4 linked regions of the Homo sapiens genome follow. The protein of the gene in region 3 interacts with the protein of the main gene of each other region in a biochemical or structural test. Each region holds a gene or a part of one and is shown on either strand. Other genes may lie near its edges.

Region 1 (7,039 bases), on a different chromosome or scaffold from region 3:
CGTGGGAGCGCCTGTAATCCCAGCTCTCAGGAGGCTGAGGTAGGAGAATCTCTTGAACCTGGGAGGCGGAGGTTGCAGTGAGCCGAGATCACACAACTGCACTCCAGCCTGGCGACACAGCGAGACTCCGTCTCAAAACAAAAAAAAGTATACAGAGGATGCGCGTAGCTTATATACAAATACTACAGCTTTTTATATCAGGAACTTGAGAATCAGAGGATTCTGGTATCTGAGGGGGATCCTGGAACCTATTCCCCACAGGTACCGAAGGTGGAGGGCTGTATTTTCTTTTTCTTTTTGAGACAGGGTCTCAATCTGCCACCCAGGCTGGACTGTAGTGGCACTAACACAGCTCACTGCAGCCTCAACCTCTGGGGCGCAAGTGAGCCTCCCACTTCAGCCTCTCGAGTAGCTGGACTACAGGCGCAAGCCACCACACCTGGCTAATTTTTGTATTTTTTGTAGACAGGGTTTGCCATCTCTAGGCTGGTCTCCAACTCCTGGGCTCAAGTGATTCACCTGCCTCAGCCTCCCAATGTGCAGGAATTACAGGCATGAGCCACTGTGCCTGGCCCAGGAGGGCTGTATTTTCATCACCCTGAAAACACCTGTAGCCTTTAGTGGGGTAAGGTCCTATCTCCTCGCTCCATCCCCTGCCCCCCAACTAATCTACATTCTGTCTCTATGGATTTGTCTTTTCTGGACATTTCACAGAAATAGAATCAAACAGAATCATACAACGTGATTTTTTGTGACTGGCTTCTTTCACTTAACACATTTTTGTGTTTTGATTTTTGAGTATTTGGATTTTTAATAAAAGAAAAAGAAAAACAGAATGAATAACTCAATCTAGCCAGCAACAGGAATGAAAGTACTTTGCAAACTGTAAAGAGCTTTTGACACATCAATGCTCGTCACTGGGATGAGCCACACAGGTTTCCAGGGGACAGTGAGGATCCTTAGAGTCCCCTGGCCATGCTCCATTTCCCCATGAGCAGAGAGGCAGGAGAGTGCAGCGGTTGAAGTGTGAGTTTCAGAGCCAACCTACTAGAGCCCAAATCCTGACTCGGACATCCCCTGGCCAGGGGTCGTCGGACAAGGCACTTCACCCCTCTGAGCCCCAGGTACCTCATGTGTAAACCGATGACACTATCTGGCTCATTGGGATGTTCTGACAGACAAACATGCTTACAAGAGTGCCTGGCACACAGTCAATGCTCCATGATGTTCGGCTTGGTGGGAAGTGCAGCCCCTAGGCTAGAGATGAGCCGGTGTCCACCCAGTGGGAGGAGGGGAAGAGGGAATAAGCCATGCTATGAGGAAAGGAGAGCCTCCGGGAGGGCAGGCTGCAAGGGCTCCTGGCTCCCAAACAGGACTGTACTGGACAGACAAGAGAGGTCACGGCACAAGCAGAGGCCCAACAGCAGCAGGTGCAGCGGGAACCATGGGGTGGCAGAAAAAGACAGTGGAAGAGGTGGGCAGGGAAGAGATCTGAAGGGTCTTGAATGGCCGGCTAAGATCCTGGCCTTCAGCCTGAGGCACCAAGGGCCATGTTCAGGTGTGTGATCACAGGATCTCTCAACCGTGGCACTACTGACACTGGAGCTGGAGAATTCCTGGTTGTGGGGCTGCCCTGGGCACTGCACAGTCTAACAGCACCCATGACTTCTACCCACTAGATGCCAGGGCACCCCTTTCCCCCTGAATTGTAACAACCAAAAGGTCTCCAGATCTTGACATATGTCTCCTGGGGGACAAAAATCACCCTGTTGAGGCTACCTGGTGGATACGAAAGGGCTGGAGGAGGCTAGAGGGGTAGTGGAAGGCCTGGGAAGGCCACTACAGAGACCAGGCAAGAGCTGACGGTGGCCCTGCCTGGGCAGGGTGCAGAAACTGATTGACACTTTGGAGGCAGGGCCTGCAGCACTTGGTGATTCGGCAGATGTGTGCAGGGAGGAGAGGTGCTGGGGAGGTAGTGGTAGACAGGGCCCTCTTCCCCTCGAGCCCTTACTCCACTCTTCGAGTACTACTGTTTGTATTTCTTTTTTCTTTTTTTTTTGAGACAGCTTCACTTTGTCGCCTGGGCTGGAGTGCAGTGGCATGATCTCGGCTCACTGCAACTTCTGCCTCCCGGGTTCAAGCGATTCTCATGCCTCAGCCTCCCGAGTAACTGGGATTACAAGCAGACACCACCACGCCTGGCTAATTTTTGTATTATTAGTAGAGATGGGGTTTCACCATGTTGGCCGGGCTGGTCTCAAACTCCTGACCTCAAATGATCTGCCCGCCTTGGTCTCCCAAGTGCTGGGATTACAGGCGTGAGCCACTGTGCCTGGCCTACTGTTTGCATTTCTGTTTGACATGTGGAAAAACAGACACCAAAGGTCAAATGATCATATGCTACAAACTTCCCAGGGACAGGGACCCAAGCTGCTAGGCAAAGCCTCTGACCCCCGCAAGTGCTGGAAACCTGCCAGAGCTGCCTCCCCCTGCAGCAGGTCCTGCCACCAATGAGTTCCTTGGTGGCCTCTAAATTCTATCAGGAAGCCGCCAGGCTTTTCTCTGAGCTCCCTTAATTCTTACAACCGCTAAGCTGAGGTTCAGAAACGTTAGGTAACTGGCCTAAGGTCTGACAGAACTGGATGGGGCACAGCCAGAATTTGAAACTTAGTCCCCAAAGTCCCTGTGTTTTTTCTCCACTCAAACTCCAGGTGAGGCTTCCTGGCAGAGGCTGTGTCTGGGAGCCGGCTGAGCATAGATGCAGGGGTGCCCCACATGCGAAGGCCTAGAAGCTAGAACTGCCCGATTTCAGGAACAGAAGATGCCCCATGAGTCAGACACAGTGGAGGGAATGCCAGTTCCCAAAACAAACTTGGACACAGAAAAGGGCTTGGACTTGGCTGGCCCTAGAGGGGCTGGGAACTTGGCAAGTTCCAGGTGGCCACGGGCGTGGCCAGCCTCACACGGGGGCCTACTTGACACCTACACAGACACATGGACACAATCGGGGACATGGGTGGACTGGAGGACAGGGGATGAAGCCCACCGTCCCGGCAGCAGCAGCGGCGGCAACCTCAGTTCCCACCCATCAGAGGCCTGGAGTATTTCCCACACTAACTCTCACCCCTGGAACCACCTGTCAGCGAACAACACTGTTCGCCACCCCTTTCAGAGCTGAGGACCAGAGACTCTAAGAGGTCTAGAGAGTTCCCCAGGATGCAAGTCTAGCAAATGGGCCCAGATTTGGCCACCTCTGGACCCTGCATGGGCAACAGCAGTGCCTTAACAAAGCAGGCCCCACTCTCTTGGCTGACCCCTTATGATGCAGAGGGAGAAGGGGCAGAAGCCACATCCATAGTGTGCTGGCCCTCGGGTGATCCTGGAAAGCAGGGCTTGGAGGACGCATCCAGCCCCACCGGCAGAGGCCATCTGGAGTCAGGCCCTGGCAGAGCACTGGGGATAAGAATGTGGCCAGAGTGTTGAATAAATGGAGCCAGCAAGGCTGGCCGGGGACGCCCTACAATCACCACTGTCCCCAAACCAACAAGACAGGGGCCCAGGAGGGTGCTGGCAGGATGGTGAGTCAGGGCAGGGTCCCCTGAGGCCCTTGCACCAGTGAAGATGGGAGAGTCAGGAGTCTGACTCGCCTCCCCAGACTCAGACCCAGAGGACCCAGACCCTTCGAAATCAACTCCGAACTAGAAACTAAGACCAATGGTGGGGGCGCAGCGCACAGCACTACTGCTGGGCCCAGCACACGTGGGTATTTTACACGCCACGACCTCATTACTTTGCACGACCCCATTTTGCAGATGGGGAAGCCAAGGATGGACAAGGTCATCACCTGCTCAAGCGCATACAGCTCACAAAAGGAAGAACCAGCACCCAAACCTAGGTCGAATTTACTCTAGAGCCAGTACAAAGAGGAGTAAATCTGTACTTAGTTTTTAAAATGAATGAGATGACTATGCAGATAAACAGGAAGTCCTGTCCCCAGGGAGGTCCCACCACACAAGATTCTGGATTTTCTGAGTGATCTTGGGCTGTCCCCGCTCCAGCCATGGGCCTGTCTCCTGTCTGCAAAAAGAGCGACGGGACCTGGGATGGGCGCTGTCTAGGAACAAGTCTGTGCCAAGAGCTGTCTCCATGCCCTTTGACCTCCAGCCAGTGGCTCCAGACTTCAGTGCTCAGCCCAACAGCTTCAATAATACGAGGGTCCTTTACACCCACTCCAATTTCACAAACAGTAAGGAGCTGGGTACACTCATTTCAGATGAGAAGACTGAGGCTCAGAATGATATGGTGACTTACTCCAGGTCACACAGCAAATGAGGAACACGCTGGGGATCTGAACCTGGACTGGCCCCCACATCTCAGCCCTTTTCTTTCCTTCTTTTTTTTTTTTTTTTGATGGAGTCTTGCTTTGTCGCCCAGGCTGGAGTGCAATGACACGATCTCAGCTCACTGCAACCTCCACCTCCCAGATTCAAGCCATTCTTCCGCCTCAGCCTCCAGAGTACCTGGGATACAGGCATGTGCCACCACACCCAGCTAATTTTTGTATCTTTAGTAGAGACAGCGTTTCACCATGTTGGCCAGGCTGGTCTCGAACTCCTGACCTCAAGTGATCTGCCCGCCTCGGCCTCCCAAAGTGCTGGGATTACAGGTGTGAGCCATATCTCCTGGCCTCCTTTTTTTTGAGACATGGTCTCACTCTGACACCCACGCTGGAGTGTGATCTCAGCTCACTGTAGCCTCAACCTCCATGGCTCAGGTGATTCTCCCACCTCAGCCTCCTGAGTAGCTGAGATTACAGGCGCGTGCCGCCATGCCCAGCTACTTTTTATATTTTTCTTGTAGAGATGGGGTCTCACCATGTTGCCCAAGTTGGTTTCGAACTCCTGGACTCCAGCAATCTGTCTGTCTTGGCTTCCCAAAGTGCTGGCGTTACAGGTGTGAGCCACCGCACCTGGCCATCCCGGCATTTTTCTATTCTGCTGTGAGGCTACTGTGCATGTCTGTGCATGTCACAATCCCCATTTTCTCATTGGTTTGCTTGACTAGCCTTCAGTGAACACCCACTGCGCTGGGCACTAGCAGATATTACCAAATGCCTGCCTCCCCGGGAGTAGCTTGGGGTCGCAGAGAAAAACCTTTAAACCAGCTGCACCACACACTCTCCCTCCCTCTGAGCTCCAGGGTGTCCATAGGGGAGGCTCATCTACTAAGCACTCAGCAATGAACTGCACATCTGGCTGGCACTTTAGAGTTTACAAAATACTTTCCCATCTGTCATTTCATCTCTGCCTTGGAACAGTTCTTGGTCAGTCAGGCAGCATTATCACAAACTACAGATGGGGACACTGAGGCACAGAGGAGCTGCATGACCTTCCCACAGCCACACAAAGCCACGTCTAGAACGCAGAGCTAGACGTCTAACGTCTCCCTCGGCATGTTCTGTCTTCCACGCTCTCACTCATGTGGAGGGCTGTGGGCATACAGGCTGCTTCTGCCAGTTTTCTAGAGCGGTCTTGGGAGGCCAACTTGACCATCTGTGCCTCAGTTTCCTGATGTGCCAAACAAATAATCTGGTACTATCTCTAGGGGCTGCAGAAAGTACCCTGCAAGGAAGTGGTCAGGGAACTCCCAGTCTCCGTCCCCGTCTCCATTGAGGCTTCCTTAGCACATTTCATACTCCAAGGAACCCTAACCATGGGGTAACAGAAACCCCGAAGTTCTGAGCTGATGGACACGACACACAGACTTGGTGTTCTCTGCACTGGACAGAGCTGATTTTCATTTTCCAAGGAGGGTAACCAAGGCACAGAGGTGTGTCTAGCCTGCTTCTGAGGGTGCAGGGACAGGAATGAGGATAACTCGTAGAAGGGCTGGCCACCTCACTCCAGCAACTTCAAGCCTCCACCCGCTAATCCACAAGCACCAACACTAAATACCTTCCCTTTGGACCAATAAGCACAAAGGAAGGGCCAAGACTCATGACCGTGCCCCTCAGAAGTGGCACTGAAAGGCGCAAGCCTCATTTCTCCCAGGCCAAGGGGAGGACTGAGAGGTCAGTGATTTGTTTAAAATGCAACATCACAGCATACTCATACTTTCAACAGGAAGCACATCCGGAGAGAAAAAGAGAGAGAGAGAACTCCCTAATGAGGAGACCGCATCCCCCCACCCCACCCCCGAGGTTACAGGGGAGCCTGCGTCATCCCAAAGCCTGCCTGGGCTGGGTTCCAGGAGGCCAGGACATAGAGAGGGGGGCCTGGCTAGGGGTCCAGCAGCAACCCAAGTCCCTTCTATCTACCAATATCCTTCTCCCAGGAAGCAGGGGAGAGGATGTGAACCCCGCCTGGGTTTTCCCACACCCAGCTGGTGACCCAGCTGACCCGGGACACTGAGGCACAAAAGAACCGCATGACTCCTGCAGAAACTGGAGCTAAAAATACCCTCCAGTGCCCAGCCTGGCCTGCGAGAGGAGCCCCCTGGCCTGCCTCCCGGCAACCTGCTGCTTCCTTCCCCATCTGGGATGGCCCTGGGGCAAATCATGCCCCTGGAGCCACATTCTGACTTCAGATCCCCAAATCCTGGGGTCTTTCCTCCTCTTGGTCCCATGGGCTGGCCCCAGGGGCTCCAGCTGGAGCTAGGAACACTTACCCAGGTAGATATCTCCGAAGGACCCGCTCCCGATCTTCCGTCCCAGGCGGTACTTGTTCCCCACACGTAGCTCCATGGCTCACTCTTGCTGCAGAGGAAGCAGGAACATGAGGGTCAGCGACGTGGGGAGCCGGGAAAGGGGTCCAGTCCACCAAGGCCAGGCAGAGCCACCAGGAACTCGAAAACCTGCATTCTCGAAGACCACATTCTGCAGGTGTCAGGTGGCCCACAGCCTGCACTCCACACACCTGGGGAACAGCTAAGGCAGGCTGAGGACAGGTTTCAGTGTGGCCAGAGAGGAAGCAGCCAAGCAAGCATGTCTTTGGGGGATGCTCATTCAGGGGCCCCTCAAAAGAAGCTTCTCAAGGGATCA
Region 2 (7,039 bases), on a different chromosome or scaffold from region 3:
CCCCATCTCTATCAGGGTATAATAGAGCACAGAAGAACTGTATGTGAGATTTAATATAGCTTAATATATGTTTACATCTTTTAAAATAAACCAAAATGAAATAAACAATACAAAGAATCCCCAACACACCCCCCCATCCCCCATAAAGGAACACACCTATCTCTCGGTAACTTGAACCAATAGACTTACAGAGTATTGCACCTGGACATTATTATAATTATTCTTTCATAGACTAAAGTTTTATAATATGCCTGAACATGCAGCAGTTGATACCTCTATATGCAACGAATTAATTCCACAGGCCTTGCAGCAAACACTATATACAAAAATCTCAAATGTACAAAAGGCAAAAGCTTCATTAGTGCCACTTTGCCACTCACAAGTATATATATTTAGGGGCAGCTGGGAAATCCACGTGCAATAGTTGGAATGGATTCCATTCCCTGCTAAATCAGTTCAGTAAATTAGGTAATCAAATGACCTCTGGGAAACATATACACAAAGCCACAGAGAACCCTTGGAAATGAAAGAATAACACTGTTAGCATATCTACAGGAGGTAATGTCACATCCCTTCAATAGTGTCCACATGAGTTGCCATTGCATGTCACACAGAAACAAAACTGAGTACATCTTGCGACATTGTCAGTTTTCTAACAAGTTGCTCTTCAGTTTCCAGATACCCTTTGTATAACCCATGTTTAGCCTCATTCTGCTTATTCCAAAAGCAGATATTTCGTATATAACTTTACATGTTTAATGTTTAAAAACCACAACACAGTAGTACTACCATTTTGTATAAGTGCGCAAAAATAACACACTGCTGCAGAAAATAAATAGTGTTTATGCTAGGAACTTAGGATGAAACTGGAAAGAGAATCTGGGAGCTGAGCTTTGTTGGAACCCCAGGGTCCTCGCCTTTGTGTCCAGGTAGAACTTGAATGATGAAGAATGCTACTTGTTGCCTTTTCTCTCAATTCATACAGCTCTCATGTGTCACTCGGGCATTGACAGCATCCACCTTGGACGACCGGTTTCTCATTTTTTATTAGCCCTTTAATATCTACCTGTATTCAGACTGGAACTCATCTCTTTTGGCCAATTAGAAAGTGAATTTGAAAATATATTTTTCAAATGTTAACAGAGTTCAAAACCCTGTTTCTTTTTCCACAAAGAGGATTTCTTCCACAAGACACAAACTTACATGACTTTGGCATGCTGAAAAGCTAAAACCAAAGCAGGCAAGAGTTAGCCATTCCAGAGCAAACCAACCCAGCTGGCCAATCCCTGCATCTCTGGTCTCCCTCCCTCAGAGGGCATGCCTCAAGGGCGCCCTCCCTCGTGTGTGCGGAGAAGCACCAGTCTCTTCTCCAGGACAGAAGGGCAGGGATGGCAAGCTGCGGTGCAGGAGGGAAAAGAAGCAAGAGGGATCAGGATCTGTGTCCGATAGCAGAGCCGGAGTCTTCTTGTTTGCTTTCTTTCTTTTTTCTGTTCTTTGCAGTAAAAGAACTGAAGTTGCTTCACTGCCAGGAGCCCCTGAGGAGTGGAACCAGGCTTGCCAATGGTCCAAACACGGCAGTGTATACAGCTAATTGCTGACCCAATGAGTCTGCATTACTGGTGAGACAAGAACCGAGAGCGCCTTCTGGTCACCAGGTGGGAGGGGGAGGAGGTGGCCTGGGGCAAGGGAATGCAATAAATAGACAGTGGACATGGGACTGGGGCTCCGAGGAGGAGAAGTAGTTCAAGACCTGCTGAGTGTCTCCAACACAGGAGTCTTCTCTGCACCCCTTCTTGCAGCATCGGCAAAGTCCAACTGCAGTGGGCTCTCAGGGCATCAGGTCTTCACCAAAGTAGGAGAAACCTTTGAATTCCTCCTGGTTGATCTGCTTTACAATTGCTTCGTCCACAAGGGTGAGTACCGGCTCTTCCCGGGTAAAGTCTTGGTCAAAATTATTGACGTCTCTTTTGGTTTTCTGTGGGAAGAAAAGAGAAAGTGGTGAGTTGAGGCTGCTCTCCCTCCTGAGGGCCCCCCATGGGGAGTGGGCACCGCACTGACCAGCCTGTCACCAAAGCAGGCCTCTAGCTACCAACAGACAGCAGACACGGGGCTGTCCCGATGAGGTAACGATGGATGGCCCCAGGACCCGGAGGTGAGAGACGAGGAGAGGAAGAATGAGTCAAGGTGAGAAGGAAGAAGGGGTGAGAGGGTATGATGGAAAAGCAGGGAAGTGGGATTCCCACAGACGTGTGTGTGTGTGTGTGTGTGTGTGTGTTTGTGTGTGTATGATGCAAAGGTCCCATCTCACACCCTCTTTCAGCAACTGCTGTAACCTACTGGCTCCATTACAACATTCCTCCCTGTGACCCAGGGAACAGATCTGAATCCCCTCTCAGAGGTCCTTCTTCCCCATAACCCGGCCACATCTGCTCCAGGTGACATCCTCTCCACAAGCCTGCCTCGATTTCCACTTACTCTCACCACGAACCCAATTTTGTGCTCCAGTATTTTTTCAATTATTAAACTCAGCACATTGACTTGCAATGACGTTTTTATGCTTTTGTCTAGACCAAGAGCTTCTTAAAGGCAGAGACCTTGTCTTGTTCAACTTTGAGTTCCCAGCAGTTCCCCAGCAATAAGTGTCTACTGAATGAAATAAGTAAACTCACCACTGACTCCCCAGCTCTGAAGGACCCATACCTCTGGGTTGAAGTTCCCAAGGTACAACTGTGTGCCTTATGGTTCTTGGGGGGTGGGGTGGAAGGGAGCAATCAATCAACCCACAAATGAATGCTGGTTTTTGGAGAAAATCAGGAAGTATAAGTAATGCTCTCTGCCTTTAGGGGCTTAGAGTTGAGTTCAAGGGGTCAGTAGTCCTGTGTAGAACACATCGCTTTAGTTAGAAAAATTTCCATGGAGAAGTTGGGATTTGGGCTAAGACTTGAGGAATGGGTGACAACTGTACTGGTAGAAATGGGAGGGAGGCACCTTGGCAGGGAGAAGGATGGAACAAAGGCAGGGAACAGGAAGACAAAAGATGCATACACAGGGCAGCGGGTTCACTAAGCTGCAGGGGCAGAGTGCGGCATGGGGATGGCGGGAGTTAGGGCTGGAGTCCAATGGCAGAGGCCTTCAATAGCAGGTCCCCTCTCCCCCACAGCACAGAGCACAATGCCCAGAAGATTAAAGGCAGGGACTCCAGCAATACTTTTTTCAGACACTGATTAACTGGTATTACCCAGGATTAGTGACTTGGATGATGGAATAAATCTTGTGGAAAGATTCACATTATTATTTGTAGGAGAAATAATATTAATATATGCTATGCTCTGTGGAAACCACTAACCTAAAGAAGTTAATAAGTAGTCCATGAAAAAAGCAGTTTTGACATAAAGCCATGTTTTCTACCCTGCTCTTGGAGATTTGCTATGCACATTGGCAAGTTAGTCTCTGAGAAATTCTAGAGTGAGGAAATCTAGTTTGCTTTGTTTAGGCTAGCCTTCCTCAAACTTGACCTAAAACTTTTTTGTTTTCCTAAATAGTTTATGAACACCTCTCCTGAGAGCAGGGTCTGCAGAATGCAGTTTGGAGAATGTTGGTTTACAGTTTACAAAGAATCTTTGCATTTATTCGCTCATTTGATCCTCAGAACAGGCTGGTAACATCCTGATCCTGCAGATGAGGAAACTGGCTCAGAGAGGTTTGTTGACTTTCCCAGGGTCACTGGACTGGGTAAGAGCAGACCCAGAACTCATGTCTGGGCTTCAGTGTGATGCCTTCCACAGTGGGTAAGGTCTGGAAATCTGGACACGGGAGAAATTGGAAGATATAACAAGAGTCAAGTTCAACCAGGAGACATTTTGGTAACACCACTAGGCAAAATAAAGCCGGAAAGGCCTGCCAGTAGGCAAGCATGGGTGGAGACAGCTGTGAGTCCGGGAAGATAGTGGGTAACGTGGGCCGGGTGAGCTGCGCGGGGGACTGTTTTCAACTCGTCCCAGGTTGAAATCAAAATCACAAACAGCACGGAGGAGGGACAAACTGATTTCTACCATCTTTTAGCACCACCAGTCCTGCCTGGTGTCTTCTCTCTGGGCTTGAGCTGCATAGGTCAGCAGGTCTCAGAGACCTTGGAAGGGGGAAGGGGGGGACACACAGAAAACCCAAGGGATCCCCAGAAACAGAACCTATAGCTGAGGGGTGTCCATGATGCCCCTGAGATGGGAAAGCCGGGTGGTTTGGTCACCTCTGCCAGGAGGGCTGGCCCCCGGCAGGAGGACCATCTGTTCTCCCTCTCCAGTGTGTACAGAACAAGAGGAAAAGGAGGGCCCTGCTTGAGAGGGAAACAACAAAGACCATCCCCACGGTGACGCACACTGACGCGGGAGGGTGGCGCCTGGGCAAAGGGTGTGGCGACACCTCTTCTGAAGATCTCTGTGGAAGGGGGAGGGATTCACTGACTGGGGAGGATTGCAGGCTATGGGCCCTCTGTGCCTGGCGAAGTGAGTCAGTCCAGAGGGAGGAGCGGGCTGGGTAGGCTGTGGCAACAATTAGGGAAGCCCTGGGTATCATCCCAGAAGGCAAGCCAGGAGCATCCACGCCGGGGGAGCTGGAGCCGAAGGGGATAATGGAGTAGTAGGGGTGGCAGTAAGGAGAAAAAGAGAGTCAAGGAATAGGGCAAGAAGAATATTCCATTTGTAACGTCACTAAGGACGAGCCTTGCCCAGGTATGTGGTAGACCGGTATAATCCAGGCAGAGGGCTGGCTGTACAAGGCGTGTAGGCAGGAGATGCCTTCACCATCTCTCCTAACTTGGCACTCACCACACTGAGGAGGCTCCCTCTTTTCAACTAATGTATGATATAGTGACCGGGATTCTCCAGGTTTCAGAATCATCCCCAGCTCCCTCCCAGATGGCTGCTAATGAGGGGAACCTGTGTATGAAGAACTTCAGAAAATCTGTAAGCCCTCTGGCACTGGCTCTCCCCATTTACCTGATTGTGTTTCACCTGTTGGTCATTAGTGTCTGTTAATCATGGAAGCTGGTTTCATTTCTTGAGGTCAACTGAGCATAGTGGTAAAGCTAGATCCTACAGGATGTCTGAATTTCACGACTTGCTGTTGTGAATCAGGGAACCAGGCTCAGTCAATACTGCTAGTGGTGTCATTCCAGAGGACCTTAGCTCCATGGTGGGCTATCTTGGAGAGCCATTTAGCTCAGCTCTGAGATTCTTGAGGTTCCAGAATCATCTGTGGCATTTGAGAGAGTATGCCATTCTTCATGATCGTTACAGACTTGGCTCACCCATCTCCTTATACAACTTGGCCCCTACCCTACTTTACTTGGAGACATTTCAGGTGCATGTGAGTTACCCATTTCTAATTCAAATAACCATCCCCACTATGTGCAATCTCTAACTGTTAACAGTAGAGGCTTGGGAGTTTTCCAAAGCAAACATCTCTGGGAAAACCCATCCCCTATTAATGGTATGTAGGCAGCACAGCATCGTCAAATTTGCAAAGAACTGCAGATTATATTCTTTACTCGCTGATTTTATTCTTTGAAAAGCTGCTACCTCCCGCACAGAGCAGGCACTGGACTCGACTTAAAGATTCTGAGGGGCAGGCTCTCAGAGACACTTGTTTATCCTGATCCTCAGTCATCCCTGCCTCCCCTAATGCCTAAATGTCAGGCTCCTGGCCCCCACTGCAGAGCCTGAGAGATGACAGTGGGACACAGGGAACAACATTCTAACTCGCCAGTCCCTTCCTAATCCGTGAAGCCTTTTCTACAACCTTTGGCCCACACTTAGGGAAGGCTGAATAGAGTAGGAGGAAGATCACCGGCTGAGCTCATTCTGGTGCCATCCTTTCCTGGTTATTGACGCTGTGAAGTTAACCTCTTTAAGCCGTGGTCTTTCCATCTGTCACACGGGGGTGGTAACAGGCACACTATAGGTTTCCTTGAGGACTGAGTGAGATGTGATATTAGGTTCCTTCTGCAGAACCTGGCATACAGAGTGCACTCAATAAATGATAGCTCCCATCATGCCTTCAAATCTTAGCATTCGTGTGCCATGGGCATGCATCATGCACAGCTTGGTTGTTTCCCAACACAGTGCATGGTATCTGCCCATCAGTGAGTTTCCTGAAGTTAGGGGCTGAGTCTTACCTTTCTTTCTGTGCCTCCAAATCCTGAACTAGGACTGAGCCTGGGCCTGCCTGAACATCCTAGTGCTTCCTCCAGCAATTGAGATGCTTCATTGCACATCACGGCTTTTGGGGTAAAGTCCTGAGTTCTTTCGCTCACCTGCTTCTGAGGCCCTTCAGGAGCTTGTCCTTGCCTCATCCCCCAGGTTCATCTCCCTGGCACTGCCCAACCATGGGGCTTCCTCCTGCTTTCTCTTGCCTCCAGCCTTGCATAGCTAGCCCTCTACCTGGAATGCCCTCCCCTATCCCTGCCTTCTGCCCCACATCCATGCAATTTCCCCACCTCCATGTACATGCCCTTTCTTCAGGAACCCTCCTCATCCCTCCAGGGCTGCTTGAGCAAAGCTTCTTGTGGGTGCCCTCACCATCTCTCCTAACTTAGTACTCACCACACTGAGGAGGCCTCTTCTTTTCAACTAATCTATGAGCTCCTTGCAGGCAGAGACTGGGTTGAACTCACCATTCTATCCCCAGCCTAGCACAATGCCTGGCACATACTGCATACTCCATAGATATCTGCTAGAAAAAATTAATAAATGCACCTCTCTTGCTGCTACTTTATCTAGAGCCAGTAACGTGATCTGGGTTCAGGGTCAGGGGCTGCTGTGCTGTCAGGGGGTGTTTTGATTTTGGGAAGTGGAGGCAGGGAGTTGGGGGGGATGGCTGTAGTCTGATTCATGAAGGGCCTAGAGCCAGGCATCCCAGACCATCACTAGGCCCATGGGGTCTGCAAAACAGGTAGGCTTAGGCCCAATTAATGAAATTTCTTCTCCCAGGACTTGGGGCACTAGAGTTTTCTAATTGCTGACACAAGATAGAAACAAACAGG
Region 3 (2,677 bases):
CACTTTGTTCTGATTCTCACACTCAGGCCCTTCTCCCCCCATAGTGTGTGAGCACCTTGATGCCAGAGACCATCTTCCTCTCATCTTTGCAGCCTCAGTACCAAGGGCCATTATAAGCACAGCGCAGATTTCATGGAGTGGCTGAATGATTTGTTTGCTGTGTGATCACCTGTACTGAGTCAATATCGGTCACCTTTGGTCATGAGCATGCCCCTTGACCCAGATTCCTGCAGGAGCCTGCATATAGGGGCCCTGCTTGCTGGGACTGGGGATGGGGGTGGGGTGGGGAGTTCAAGGGAAGGCAAGGTCTAGGATATAAATCCCAAGGGCGTGGGCTCAGCAGGGCCCGTTCTCATGCTTTCTGGCCCGGGAGGAGTGATTCTCCATCTGGCAGGCCCAGCTGCAGTGCTGGGACAGGGACATGAGCAGAGGCCACAGGAGGAGAGAGGGAGGTTGTGGGGGGAGCTCGGGGAAGCCCATGGTAACCCGGGGGGAGGAAAAACAGCCACACAGTGTTATTGTTACAGAACCATTAAATACAACTTATACACAAGCAAGCTGGGCGGCGTCCGGGGGGCAGGGAGAGTGCAAGAGGGTCAGGGGTGAGCAGTCCGGGCCCGGTCCTGGAGGGGGCTGAGGCTGCCGTCGTGGGAGGGGCTTGGCTGGCGGAGGCCGGGCTGCCTGTGGAGGCCTTGAAGCTTTGCCAGCAGCTCCTGGATGAAGTCCTGAGACAGGGTGGGGGAGCTGAGAACATGGGAACAGTGCGGGGGCACCCTCTGCCCCTGTCCAGCCCAGTCCCTGACCTGGGCGCCTCCTCCTGTTCTCTGATTGTGGGGTGGGGGGAGTTAGGGGCGGAGGCTATAGACATAGAGAGAAAAGTGAGCCGGGAGAAAGACAGAGATGGGGAAAGGGCGATGGGAGGGATGGAGAGAAAGAGCTAGGAAGAGAGATAGAGATCCAAGGAGACAGATACGGAGTGGGGGAGGGGGAGAAACAGACACAGAAACAGAGAGACATGTAGAGATAGAGACAGAGAGAGACATAAGGACAGAGAAAGAAACAGAGACATGTGGAGACAGGTCCCCAGAGATAGATCCAGGGCGAACAGAAATGCAATGACGTTTGTCCCTAGAGCTAGTTGGAGAAACATGAATAGTTTTCCCTTTTAAAGCAGGGAAGGAAGTGGGAGGGGTTGGGCCGCTCAGCTTCAGGGCCTGGGAGGATGGAGGGCCCCCAGAGGTGGGGAAGGGAGCCCGGGGTGGCGGAGGCAGTGACAGGGGAGGACAGAGGGAGACTGAGCCCGAAGGCTGGTGGCCAAAGGACAGGCACAGGAGAGGCAAAAACAGGGCAGATGGGGGAGGACAGAATGGAGCCCCCTCAGCAGATGGGGGAGAGAGGGAGAGAGACAAGTAGGAGGACAAAAGACACCCCTGGAGACCAGAAAGAGCTGCGGAGGGCAGGTTGGGGCCGGGGGTGGTGGGGCCGGGTGGTGTTCCCCAGAGACCCTTCTGCCAGCTTCTTCCCCCTCCCCCATCAGAGTACTTGGGGCCAGAACAGGGAGAGAATGAGGGAGAGAAAACTCACCTCGACAGGTTTCCCACATGACTTCAGGAGTCCCTAAAACCCCCAACCAAGAACAAAACAAAACAGTAAATGACTAACACCTACTCCCCTCCAGCCCCTTCCCTTTCCCAAAAGGCCCCAGCAGCAAGACAAATGGAAGTCAGACTCCAGGGTGGACTGCCCACCAAGCTTCAAGAGAGGAACAGAGCCCAAGGGGCATGTGGATCGACTCAGGGCAGGGGTGAGTTACTAGATCCAGAGAGGGCGAGAGGGTCACACAGCACTTCCCTCCTCTAAAAAGGTATAAGCCATAAGCAAAGACATGGCTGCCAAACTGCCTGGGTTCGATGCCCAGCTCTGCTCCTTCTGAGCTGTGTGACACTGGGCAAGGGATTCAACCTCTCTGGGCCTCATTTTCCTCATGGGGAAAATGGAGCTCACACTAGCGCCTGCTTCGGAGGGTTTTGTGAGGGTTAAGTGAGTGAATACATGTAAAGCCATCACACCAGTGCCCGGCATCTAGTGAGCACTCAGTAAACACGTGAACTATTGCTATTATTTTTAGGGAGGTGCAAAGTGGGAGGCTGGGGGACACGTCCCCCCACCTACCTGGATTTTCCGGCTTCTCTCCTCTTCACTCTCTAACTCCAACAATTCATCAATGTTGATCTCATCGGGCATGTCTGCCTCCTAGGGCCAGGGAGGGAGGGGTGCTTAGGATCCCCTTCCCTCCCTCCCTCGCCTTTGTCCAGGGCTCTGCAGGAGCCCCACCGGCCCCAGGGCCCAGCTGGCGGGTTCTGGAGCATTAATGTGGCAGTCCGGGACAGCACTGCCAAGACGGGACATCTGGGTGTTGGGGGGGAGGGGTGACAGATGGGCTGAGAGAGCCCCGGGGCCCTGTACCAGCCCGATGCCTGGGCCCATGGGCCCCGGGAGCCTCGGGGCTGGCACGGGTCTCTCGCCTTGGCTCTAGTTCCCACAGAGGAAAACAGGCCTAGTGGAGTCCTGGAATGTCAGATTCTGGGATTCGGGAGAGGAGCTGGCTTCTGCCCTTTCAAGGAAAAGTCTTAGCACTAGGTGCAGGGGAGGAGAGGCTGGCAGCCAGCAGCCAGCT
Region 4 (7,039 bases), on a different chromosome or scaffold from region 3:
GCCCTTATCTTCATTTCCCTTTAAAAACTCCATTCATTCTTTAGGTTCATGTCAAAAGCTACCTTTTCCATAAAATCTTCATAGAGCCCCACATATGATCTCCATGCTACTTTATTAGTGTTTCATGTAATATAGCTTATTCTCTTTTTAAATATAGCTATTTCTGTATTTATTGTAATAATAATAACAGTAACAGCAGACACAAGAGTTTTGATTCAAAGCTTACTGTATGCTCTAAATTAACATGCATTATTTCCATTTTATAGATGAGGAAACTGAGGCTTTGACAGATTAACTTATTTGCCCAGGGTCAAGCCATATCCATGTATGCCTGATTCTAAAGAATTGAGTGAACTCTTAGCTACAACACTGCTTTTAGACACTGGTGACAAAATCATTCTTAAAGGTTATACAGTCTTCTTTACTTCTGAATTTCTATAATGTGTAGAACAGTAGCTTTACAATAGCAGAAATTCAATAAATAATTTATTGAACTAAACTACAGTTAGAAAGTCCAAGTGTTATTACAATTCATTCTAATAGGGTATCCAAATACTTCCATTCTAACAGAATATCACATATTCCTAAAAGTTTACACTAATTTGTACCATTAATTAAGGATTTATGATTAAACATTTTAATGCTATTATTAAACTAATAAACAGTGAAATTAAGAGAAAATAGATTATCTATTAAAAATATGTATTTTCAATCCTTCAGTCTGTTTTATCTATTGAAGAAAAAAGTGTATGTTTCAATCATGAAAGGAAGGTATTTCATATCTAAAGGGCAGCAAACCTGGTTTTTGGATTGTTGCATCTTATCTCTGTGTTGATGTGCTTCTCTGTTTGATGACAGAGCAGGATCTTGCTGAACTGCACCCACTGGAGTAGGCTACAATACAATAACAATTGGTATCAATACATTCCATTTTAAAATTCTTATTTAAAATCATTTAGCTGCTTAAAAGAATTAAGGAAAAAAACAAAAGACTGTTAAATAAACTAAGGCTTTAAGTAAAGGCATCATTATCAAAATATGTTGTTAAAGCTAAGAAGGTAAAGCAAAAAGAATATACCTACTTTTTAAAGTGTTTTTAAAATATTCAAATTCTTTATAAAGTACTTATTTTTACATCTACAGAACACTTAATGCTGCCATTACTTTTAGGCTACATTTTCATATCAACATGATAAAAATGTATATGTTTATGCCTCTCATTTCCAAAGCAAATGTATACATAGAATAAACTTTTAAGAAAATTAAAAGAATAAAAAAACTAATAAAATTACTTATTTCCAATATTTTGACTTGAAGAGACTCATACAAATTTTAATTTTCATCAAGGGATTGAAGTATTAAATTAATCATGAGAATATTACACAAAAAAGAGTATATTTGACATTAAGAACTAAATCAGGATGAAAAGTTAAAAGTAACTCTTCATGCTAAAAGGCAAAGAATCCAGATGTAGGGCTTCTGAAAAACTCAAAGAACACTAGTACGGCACTACCTGCAGAAATGTCCCTTAAAAAACAATAAAATGAATCCTTTAAAACAACTATTTGTTCTCAACTCTTTTCAATTGAAGATATTGTACTATTAAAAAGGCAACAGATACTGTAAGTAATATATTATTATATAGAATACTCACCAACTGTTTACCAATCCAGTCATATTCATAATCAAACATATATCCTTTTCGATCAAACAAGTCAGTAAAAAGCTTTCTTAAGTAGTCATAGTCTGGTTTTTCAAAAAAATCTAGCCTTCTTACATAACGAAGATATGTTGCCATTTCTTCTAGAAATAATATAAAAATTATTTGGACTATACTTTTCTTTAATACTCAGTAATAAAATTAAGTATCTAAAAGCACATTGTATTATATAAAAACACTTGAAAAGTAACAAAATTACATTGCAATTTAAATTTTTCTGAGTTTAATTACAACAAAATAAAAAAGAGGAAAAGAAGGAAGGGAATAGAGACACAAGAAAAATGGGAGGTTTAGTTTAACAACCACTATTTTTGCTTCATTTCATTAGGAAAAGCTAAAATTTTCATTTTTATAAGATTATTTTTAATATTTGGTAGTATGAGAAGTTGAATAAGCAGTTTAATAATGCATGATTAATCACAAAGCATCATATTCAGTTTATAAATTTAAAATTTTATTTAAAATACCGGTGAGAACTGATTTATATGAAAGCATCTGTATTGGCTTGCTGGATTTCCTTTAGAATCAGTGACATAAACCAACTAACTAATAGAGAATTCAAATTCCTAACCTTGGCTTTGAGCAGTATTCTAACCAATTAAGCTAACAAAGGAAAGCTAAAACAAATCTCAAAAACATAACACAAGAGGACAGTGTAAGTCTTCTCTTAATTTCTGGTCATATATTTAACAATTATTTGGCGATATACAAATCTCTGCATGCTATTATAATTCCAAAATGTATTAGATACATGTATCTAATACATGCAAAAACAAACAAACAGACAAACAAATATATAAATATAAAACAATGGGCAAAATGGTGAGCAATTAGTAAAGCAGGGCATTTCACCATCAGGGCACAGAAAATCACTACAGTAAGAGATGGTAAGTTACACCTAGCATTCACAGGCAGCCCCAGCCAACAGGAAAAAGATCACACCCAGCACAATGAGGCAACAAAAGTGGTGTGCAGTGACCTTCTTTAGGTGGTGACTCTCCCACTATTCCACTTTCTAGCTAAATACCTGGCTAATTTGATTTGGCAACCCCATTTTTCCCACCTTTATATAGGCTTCCTTAATGACAACTACCCTATCTGCCTACACTAAACTGCTAGTACTATTAACCGACATTTTAAAAAATCTACTTCTAGATATTATAGCAAGAAAGGAAAATATATAATTAAAGTTTGCTGTCAATGAATAATATAAACAAGCTTGAGAAAGAGCTACTTTTGTTATGTTGATAATATTATTATTACATTAATAACGCCAGCATTATACAGGAGAACTACGGAATACTAAAGTGAGATAGGAATTCCGTATTTTATCTTCAAATTTAGCTCTCTTTTCACTTAATGTGGCTGCACAAATAAATCACAGTCATTATCTTAATATACTAACAAGTTATTCTTATTCCTTAATTGATGTAGAAATCTTAAGTAAATTTTTTTTGGCTTAATTTGAGTTGCCATAAATCTACTTGAAAGCAAAATTATTTTCATAAATGCATACAGCTCCCCAATATAAAATTAGCCCCAAACTAGTGAGGTCAGTAAGGTTTTACTGGCCTTACTTAATTTAAGTTTAATTTGAAAACTAAACCAAATCATACTTCACATACCTCCTTTGAACTTGACATTGAGACCCAAATGACTAACACTGAATACCAAAACTTTGTAACTGGCATTTCTTAGCAAAAATTTTAACTCATTAAAAGTATATCACTAAAGAAAATATTACTTCAGCTGGTAATGATCAACACTATTAACAGACAGGATTTTCTTCTATTAATACCATTTGCAAAGCAAATACACAAAGTGTCCCTGTGGGTTCGGCATCAAATGCTGACAACCTTTAAATCATATTTTTAGCTCTTTTTTTTTTAAGCATAGAAAAAAATATGTATAAACTTAAGCAATAAAAATTAGCATTTCTAGTTTTCTGTATATAATGTATCAACCTCACATTATTCATTACCTGGAAAATTTTCACATAACACTTCTATTGGTGTAGCCCGTTTTGTATCTCCAATTTTCTGATACCTCTCCTTTAATGTGTCAGCCTAAAACAGAAAAAAAAAATCTTGAGAATGTGGTAATTTAAAAATTATTTAGCTGGGACTGCACACGGTAGCCTGTAATCACAGAGCTTTGGAAGGCCAAGGCAGAAGGAATGCTTGAGCCCAGGAGTTTGAGACCAGCCTGGGCAACACAGGGAGCCCTGATGCCTACTTACAAAATAAAATTTTAAAATATGAAAACTGTTTAGTTGGAAGACAGGACCTTAATATCTTAATATTTTATGAAATTCAATAAAGAAACACAAAAACAATTACCTTTAAGCCTTGCCAAGGAAGACTGCCTCTCAGAAAATACATGAACATATGACCTAAAGCTTCTAAATCGTCTCTTCTACTTTGTTCTGAAATACAAAAGAAATATAAATTTCACTTTTCTCTAACAGTTAAGAATGGAAGAATGGAGAGTTTGTTCTTTCATTATGTATAAATTAATTTCCAAAAGTTCAACATATAAATACAAAATACAGATCTAGTAACTATAAGTGATAAAATTATATCTATATAAATAATGTTTTTACATTAAGATTATTGAGCATCTTTAAAATATTCCATTATAATTTTTAGATGCTGTTAGAGATTTATTTATCTGCTTAGATGTCTATTCATGGAAGTACAGGCCACGGGGAAAAGAGTTCCATGGTCAGAGTCACTGTATACTACAGCTCTGTCTTAAAGATTCAGAAGGTAACGTATTAAAACTTCTGAGAAATCTAGAATTTAAAATGTTTAACTTTTTCAACCCTGCATTTCCTAAAGTTATATGAGCACAAAACTCCCATGATAAATACTCTCCATTAAATTAAACACGATTATGGAGTATTGTGTGTAATATATTTTAAGAAAAACTTGTGTTTGACACATACCAACATTAATAACCCCTTCACTATCACAAAAAATACTACTTGAACAAACTGTCATTTTCAAGTTGTTGTTGTAACAAAATGTCATTTAGCACATAAGTGAATAAAGATTACAGACTAAGGCTCAGGGAGATGCTTATAAATACTTGCTGACTGAATGATATTTCAATTTTTCTGTCACTGAAGTTAAATACTTAAGATTTCTTGATGTTTCAAAATAATACCAAAATGCTAACTACCAATGAGAAAATACTTTAATAAGAGGATGTCTGTTTATGTGCAAGATGTTTTATCCACATGAACAATCATACTATCTAGGCAGTACTTAATGCTTTCAGAAAAGCAAACTTTTCAAAGTATGGCTCTGAACTAGGATGAAGGGTCAGAAAAGGTTTTGATTTTTACTGTGTAAACATTCTATACTTGTTGATATGGTTTGGTTGTGTTCACACCCAAATCTCATCTTGAATTCTCATGCGTTGTGAGAGGGACTCAGTGGGAGGTAATTGAATCATGGGGGCAGGTCTTTCCCATGCTTTTCTCCTGATAGTGAATAAGTCTTATGAGACCTGATGGTTTTATAAGGAGTTTCCCTGCACAAGCTCTCTTTGCCTGCCACCATCCACATGAGATGTGACTTGCTCCTCCTTGCCTTCTGCCGTGACTGTGAGGCCTCCCCAGCCATGTGGAACTGTAAGTCCATTAAACCTCTTTCTTTTGTAAATTGCCCAGTCTCAGGTATAACTTTATCAGCAGCAGCAGCATGAAAACAGACTAATACACTTGTTTTCAATAACACTTGTTATGATTTAAAGATACTATGTTTGTGTTTTTATTTAATCAATATATATGCTTCCACCAGACTGCAAGTTGCAGAAGTATACATCAAAATTGACAGTCATTAAGGCTACAAGATTGGAAGACTAGAGAAGAGATTTCAACTTCCCATTTCGCATGCTAAAAATGTGATATAACGGAGAGGTTTTTTTATTTCTTGTACTTTTTATTATAAAATGTAAGTATATGCTATTAAAAATAGCAAATTTTCCAAAATAAGTAGTGGCCTTAAAGTCCATCTACATCCACTAATGAAAGTGGGGATGAGAATATGAAAAAAACTAGTTATAACTTTTATAACGAAAATTTTACTTCATTAGATTCTCGTAGTCCTGAGGGTATAGTTTGGTAAGTTTTAACAACAAACACACCTGCATAACTACCACCACAATCAAGAGGCATTTCTAATGCTCCAAAATGTCTCTTGCCTATTACTCTCCCCCAACCCCCACAATACCATCAGCCTCAGGCAACCACTTATCTGCCTTCATCACTACAGATTAGACAGGTGCACATGAATGGAATCATACAGTATAGATTCGTGTCCAAATTCTTTCACTTACTATGTTTTCAGGATTTATCCATGTTGTTACGTGCAACCATAGCTCATTACTTTTTAATGCTGAGTAGTATATTACAATGTGTTTATTCATCTGTTGACAGACATTTGAATAGGTTCCAGTTTGGGGCTATTGTGAATAAAGCTGTTATGAACATTCTTCTTGTACTAGTCTATGTTGACATACATTTTCATTTATGTTGGGTTAATATCTAGAAGGGGGATTGCTACATGATGTTGTAAGTATAGGTTTAACTTTATAAAAAACTTCTATATGATTTTCCAAAGGGGTTATGTCATTTCACATTTCTACCAGCAATGTATGGGAGTTTCAGTTGCACCTGTCCAACCTCTGTATGGTCTTTTAAATTTTAGCCATGCTAGTGGCTATGAAGTATAAGCAGTAATAAATCCTTTCAGAAAAGCAAACTTCAAAGTATGGATTAACTGACTTAATTTGTATTTCACTGGTGACTAACACTGAACTTTATTTCATGTGTTTGCCTGTTTAAAAAATTGGATTGTCTTACTAAAAAGTTGTAATAGTTCCTTGTATATTCTGGACACAAGTTATTTTCAGATATGTTTTGCCAATACCTTTTCCCTTCAAGAAAACAGCTTGCTATTTTTTTGTTTTCTTAAGAGTATGTTTAAAAGAAATTTTACATTTTGATGAAGTCCAATTTATCAGGGGTTTTTTCCTCTTATTTTCTATACTTTTTGATGTCCAATCTAGGAAATCTCTACCCACAAGATCACAAAGATTTTATCCTGTTTTTTCTTCTAGAAATTTTATAGTTATGGTTCCTACATTTAAACCTATTACTCATTTTGAAGTAATTTTTTTTTTTGCTTTTGGTGTGGAGTAAGGATTTAGATATATTTTTTTCAATACTAATATCTAGCTACTCTCATATAGTTTCTTGGCAAAACTATCCTTTCCCCTCGAGTTGCTTTTGCACCATTCTCAAAAATCAAT

Evidence for each region.
Region 1: the proteins of PPP1R14A (region 3) and CSNK1E form a complex in vitro, tested with the Homo sapiens proteins (one study listed by BioGRID).
Region 2: the proteins of PPP1R14A (region 3) and PRKCE form a complex in vitro, tested with the Homo sapiens proteins (one study listed by BioGRID).
Region 4: the proteins of PPP1R14A (region 3) and CSNK1G3 form a complex in vitro, tested with the Homo sapiens proteins (one study listed by BioGRID).

What each region holds. Positions count from the first base shown.
Region 1 is NC_000022.11:38,307,416-38,314,454, forward strand, and holds part of CSNK1E (casein kinase I), read right to left. Parts: intron 6,755-7,039; 5' UTR 6,743-6,754; coding exon 6,667-6,742; intron 1-6,666. Other genes in the region: TPTEP2-CSNK1E (casein kinase I), read right to left, coding at 6,667-6,742.
Region 2 is NC_000002.12:46,179,671-46,186,709, reverse strand, and holds part of PRKCE (protein kinase C epsilon type), read right to left. Parts: intron 1,976-7,039; coding exon 1,829-1,975; 3' UTR 1-1,828.
Region 3 is NC_000019.10:38,250,722-38,253,398, forward strand, and holds the end of PPP1R14A (protein phosphatase 1 regulatory subunit 14A), read right to left. Parts: intron 2,254-2,677; coding exon 2,173-2,253; intron 1,618-2,172; coding exon 1,585-1,617; intron 726-1,584; coding exon 597-725; 3' UTR 516-596; downstream 1-515. UniProt on the Homo sapiens protein: Inhibitor of PPP1CA. Has over 1000-fold higher inhibitory activity when phosphorylated, creating a molecular switch for regulating the phosphorylation status of PPP1CA substrates and smooth muscle contraction.
Region 4 is NC_000005.10:123,585,174-123,592,212, reverse strand, and holds part of CSNK1G3 (casein kinase I isoform gamma-3), read right to left. Parts: intron 4,146-7,039; coding exon 4,060-4,145; intron 3,787-4,059; coding exon 3,702-3,786; intron 1,804-3,701; coding exon 1,655-1,803; intron 895-1,654; coding exon 799-894; intron 1-798. UniProt on the Homo sapiens protein: Serine/threonine-protein kinase. Casein kinases are operationally defined by their preferential utilization of acidic proteins such as caseins as substrates. It can phosphorylate a large number of proteins. Participates in Wnt signaling.